Regions from separate parts of the Homo sapiens genome. Here region 1 is linked to region 2. A link means that fine-mapping ties the variant in region 2 to the expression of a gene that starts in the linked region. Tissue or cell type: lung. Region 2 holds a variant in brackets; the other region holds the start of a gene. All regions are shown on one strand. Distances are between the middles of the regions.

Region 1 (2,682 bases), 200 kb after region 2:
CGTCGACCTCAACACCACAGCACATACTTGTAACTGTTTTTTTGTTTGTTTGTTTTGTTTTGTTTTGTTTCTTTCTCACAACCCTTTACATGGCTGTTTTCCCACTAATCGTGCCACTTCCACGGCCGGGATATAAAACCATTTTACAACAGTTATTCTCCCATGTTTTTCCTTCATTTTATAGACAGCTGAATCCCAGGATCGAAGCTGTTTCAGCAGACAACTGTTGGGAGCACACAAGATCTATTTCAGCTCAAGAAAGGCCAAGGACAAAGACAAGACAAAAGTTGTGGGTTAAAGGGCAGACTTTGCGCAGAGCACCGGTAGAGGAGCGGACAGTGTGATGCGTGGTCCACTGCAAACCATTTCTTCCACAGCAGCAGCTCTGCAAAAGGGACCTCTGAGGAAGAATTCCCTGTCTTCCCAGTGAGTGGTCATTTTAGGAGAACAAGTCCCCTACTAGCCCATAGCTGGAGGGCCAACACTTTTTCTCTCCCTGAAGTTCCCGGCACCTGTTCTGAAAGGGGGTTGAAGAGCTCTCTACTCGGGCCATCCCGCCTGCTCTCTGGATGGAGAACATACGGACAACTGTGTGTTAAGCAGTCCCCTTGAATCCTTCAGCAAGCCAAGGAGTATACAGGTGGTCACCTGCACAGGTGCCGGGTCTACCACCACAACTTTATCCCTGGCCTTGGGGGCTGATGGAGAGTAAGACTCCCCACCACCGCCACCAGCAGTACCTCCAGCTCGCGAGTAAGCAGCGCACAGGCGGGCACAGGTAAATGTTCCCAGGGCGGCCAGACGCCTAAGCCTGCTGGCTGCTGGCGCTCAGGGTCCCCACCTCCATGCCTCTGCGTGGGGCAGGGGGAGTCCTCGTGCCTGGCATCCCACTCCCCCCGCCAACCCAGCCCGCTTATCCTGGGGCTCCGGCCGGGCCGCCCGAAGGAGCCCCGCGCCCAGCCCCGGGAGCCCCGAGCCGCCGGAGCCGCAGCGCCCACTCGGGGCAGGCAGCGTGCACTCACCCTTCTGCTCTCGCAGGCTCGACAGCGACCAGAGCAGCAGCGCCACCGAGGCCAGGAAGCAGAGCTGGCTCAGCAGAAGGTCCCTCCGGCGGCGGCGGCGGCGGCGGCGACGCGCGCGGTCCTCGTCGCCGGACGGCCGCATCCTCGGGCGGCCGGGCGGCGGCCTCGGCGGGCGGCGGCCGCTCCTGTCGCGGGCGGCCGCGGCGGGGACAGCGGCAGGAGGCAGCCCTGCGCGCAGCAGCCGCGCGTCCTCGCTGCGCTCCCACCCGGCCGCCGCCTCCGCCTCCTCTTCCTCCTCCTCGCCGCTGCCCGTCTCCTCGTCGTCGCCCTCCTCGTCGCTATCGCCCAGTCCCTCCTCCCCTCCCTCCTCCTCCTCCTCGCCGCTCGCCCGCGCCGCCGCCTCCCGGCGCTCGGGGTCCCGCTCCTCCTCGCGCGCCATGGCTCCCACGCTCCGCGCCCGCGCTCGGCCTGGGGCGGCGGCGCGGCGGGGGCGGCGGGGGCGGCCGGGAGGCGGGGGCGGAGGGGGCAGAGGAGGAGGAGCGGGGAAGGACCGACGGTAGGAGGGCCCGCCGCTGGCCAACTCCGCCGGTTGGCAAAGCCACCCCGGACTGGCTCTGGCCTCGCCGGCTGCAGGAGCGCCTCGCGGGGCCGCCCGCCTATTCCATGGTCGGCGCGATGGGGGCCGGGGCCGGGCCGGAGCGAACAGGGAGCACCGAGCGAGCTGGGAGCATGAGCTAGCGCAGCTCCCGGCAGCCTGCAGCGGCGAGGCTGGTCGGGCCAGGGTTGGCGGGGGGCAGTGCCTGGGACACAGCCCGGCGCTGGCCGGCATGGCGGGGAGGGGGCGCGCTGGGAGGAGACTGGGCTGGGGAGGGATCCCTGTGTGCAGTCCTTCAACCCTTCTGTGCCAGGGGAAGAGGGACGGCGCAGGGGGCCCCCTCTCGGGAAGCACACACGCTGCCTCCCAGAGGCCGATCTTCACCAAGAAGGATTCGCTGGAAACTTTCGGAAAACCGAGGGGCTCTTCAGCCTCCTCTCTACGTGCTACCTGGAGTCGGGGCGCCGCGAGTGCGCTTGGCTGCCCGCGCCCAGCCTCTGGCCTCGCCTCTTCTCGCGGGCCTCCCGGGTTTCCCTCTGCCCCCTTGCGGGGATCCCCCTGTGCGCCCGACTCGGGATCTGGAACAGGCCTCCCCAGAGGCTGTTAGTTCCATAAGGGTGTCCGGCTCCCCCCTCTGTCTTGGGCTCACACTTCGCTTTCTGTTCGTGCTGGACCAAGTCCAATACTGTGGCTGATCGAAGTGGGGACAGCTGGCACGGTCCCTGGAGAGGCGGCCTGAAGAGGCTTCTGGCCTTGTGCAGGTAACACCAGCCTGCCCTACCTCCAACGTTAGAATCTTAGTCCTCCCATTTCCCCCATTCTAGGTCTCCTGCCCCTCCTTGCTGAAGGTGTGGGCTGCCCTAGAGATGGCTGGACTCACGACCTGCCGCAGGTGCCCATTTGGAGGGGATCCCTGGCCATCCCAGACACAGCCCACTCTCCCTCATTGGGCTTCCCTGGACTCTTCCCAGATGCTAGCCTGGGGCTGCTGGCTGGGCTGAGGAGGAGATGCCATTGTTGGGGCGGAGGGTGGGGGGGCGCTGAAAACAAAAGACCTTGTCCAGA
Region 2 (2,682 bases):
ATCATTTTCCTAGCTTGACACTTGGGTTATTTTTCCTTGCTTGTTACAATCATATAAGAAATGTATCTCCCCTACTCCTTCTCCAATGAGACATTTGAGCATAATTGTGCTGCAGTCTTTCTGACTCAGTGGCTCATCCACAAAGGTGCTCAGAACCTTTTCTAGTTCACTTGTCTGATCCGGCACAGAACATTCTCCTCCTTCTCAGGTCATGCATACTCTCCAAAAGCTGCACACCCTGGTCTTCACCTGATGGGAAACATCCTGCCTCTAGACCCTTCAGTGTCAACATCTGCACTCATGTTTTGCTTCCTGAACCCACTATCCCTGCAGCTGTTTCCACCTCCCCTCGCCCATGCACAGAGGTCCCCTGCAGGGCCTCTGCTCCTGCTGCGCCTCTTCCTGGGAAGGGCTCCTCCTTCTCCCTGGTCTTCATAGGGTGTCTCCTTGTAATTCAGTCCCAGCCTATGAGTCACCTTCTCAGAGAGGCCTCCTGGATCTACAATCTAAAGAAGCTCTAAGTCTCCCTCCTCACCAATCAACTCAGTAACATGACCCAAGAACACTGAGCTCTTCACGGAACTCTCCCTGATAATATCTGGTGCTTTGATGTGTTTCTGGATCGTCTTCTCCCTTTAGCCAAACTATTTCTCATGTGCATCCCTGTGTCTCTTGCGCCCAGAACAGTGAAAGCATACAGCAGGAGCTCAATAAATGTTTCCCGAATGAACAAATGAATGAATGAAAACATGAAGGCAAATCTCATTTCCCTGGTGAAATGCTTTATAAATTATTTGCCACATTATATGGATGTCCTTTATTTCCAGAGGAGTGTTAAATTGTCCATAACCCTTTGACCAGTATTTTGCTTCTAGGAATCTCTCCTAATGACATAGACAAAAATGGAGACACCAATTTTGGCACAAGGATGGTCATCAGAACAGTATTTTTAGGCCGGGTGTGGTGGCTGACACCTGTAATCCCAGCACTTTGGGAGGCTGAGGTGGGTGGATCACTTTAGGCCAGAAGTTCGAGACCAGCTTGGCCAACATGGTGAAACCCTGTCTCTACCAAAAATACAAAAATTAGCCGGGAGTAGTGGTGTGCACCAGTAGTCCCAGCTATTTGGGAGGCTGAGGCAGGAGAATCGCTTGAACCTGGGAGGTGGAGGCTGCAGTAAGCTGAGATTATGCCACTGCACTCCAGGCTGGGTGGCAGAGCGAGACTCTGTCTCAAAAAAAAAAAAAAAAAGTATTTTTAATGTCAAAAATAAACCCTCACTAGAAAAAGGGGAAAATTATTATACGGGTTAATCTCTTAGGAATGGCAAAGCATTATGTAGATTTAAAAAAAATGTTTATAGAATTTTTAATGACAACAAATATACTAAATGTTAATGGTATATCTGAATGATATAATTAGTATTTTTTACTTGGTACTTTAGTGTTTTACAACTTTTCTCCAATGAACAGGCATGTGTTTCACAATCAGACAAAAGTAAAATATTACAAATTCTCCAGTTTCTGAGTTCAAAGGCATTTGTACTCAACATTTTATTCCC[A/C]CATTTTATTGAGGTAAGGGAGGACTTCTTTTCTATTCTTAGAAGCGTTTTGCAAACTGTTGGTATTTTTTTAAGTGTTACAGAAAGAATGTTCAGAGAAGGAACCAGTTTTACAGGTTTACTCCCATAAAGCCACAAGGTTTCCTTAGAACTGTAGCAGCCTTCATCCTTGGTGTGTCCCAACCACCACGAATGCAGAAAGAAGTAGAAGGACTTACTCCTATTTCAGTGACACCTTCTGCCAAATTCTTCTGTGGCGGTTTCATGGTTAGCATGCAGACGCCATGATAGAGACTGACCATTGCCAATATGTCCTTGCTAAAATATAAAAGATTCAGACATCAATATGGTGGAGAATGGGAACCTATATAACATGGAAAAGAAGGGCATAGTTTAAATGACAACTATCATTACTATTGTTGTTCTTGGCTACTTGTTTTCCTTTCTTTTCTTTCTATGTCTGAGATTAATCAAGAGTAAAGATTCCTAAAATAGACACTTCCGTGATTCATTTATTCTCCACGAAGAGCTCTCTCTGCTGCATCTTTCCTGCAGTTCTCTTCTAAAGCAGGAAAACTTTGTTGTTATTTTCCCTCCTCTGTGTCCGACATGAAAGGCAGCTCTGCTCTGCCAGGTGCCCCTTCACACTGGAAGCAGCAGGAGCTGCAGCATCAGAGCACGACCTGCCCCGTTCTCAACTCACAGGAGGAAGACAGGAATGAGGACACAGCACCGGGACACAGAAAAACTAAAGATGGCGAATGCTTTCCATCTGAAGGGCATTTCCAACTATCCAAAGGTCTCCTACCGCCATCCTCTTAGTGCTGCTGCTGCCAAATACACTCCCAGAATGCTCAACCACTCTGCTTGTGGACTCTGTGACAAGGAGGCGCTCCAGTCCTTGGATGCCTCCATCGTCTCTGGATTAATGCATCCAACAAGATCCCATCTTCTTACTCAGTTTCCAGAAACAGATCCTCTGGTAATTGTCAATTGATATCCTCTGGATCCCAACCTCACAGATTGGTAGAAACTACCTGGTTCACCGTGTTGTCAGAGATCAACAGAAAAGAGTGCCATGATTGGTGAGTGATATGTGTCTGTGCTAGTCACAGACACCT

What was found. PIP is the estimated chance that this variant, and not a neighbour inherited with it, causes the effect.
Region 1: SLC24A3 starts here. The variant in region 2 is fine-mapped to the expression of SLC24A3 in lung (TOPMed, PIP above 0.99).

What each region holds. Positions count from the first base shown.
Region 1 is chr20:19,211,325-19,214,006 of GRCh38, reverse strand. It overlaps SLC24A3 (solute carrier family 24 member 3), which reads right to left and starts at 1,365. Exons shown (of 17, transcript NM_020689.4): 1 at 1,023-1,365. The coding sequence starts at 1,164. LOC101929547 (a long non-coding RNA gene) reads left to right here and starts at 1,539. Exons shown (of 3, transcript XR_007067549.1): 1 at 1,539-2,378. RefSeq lists a silencer at 965-1,014.
Region 2 is chr20:19,406,960-19,409,641 of GRCh38, reverse strand. The region is part of intron 2 of SLC24A3 (solute carrier family 24 member 3); the gene reads right to left. Among named protein-coding and RNA genes, the nearest start is that of SLC24A3-AS1, 120 kb to the right of the region's middle. The variant A/C (reference allele first, on the strand shown) is at 1,562.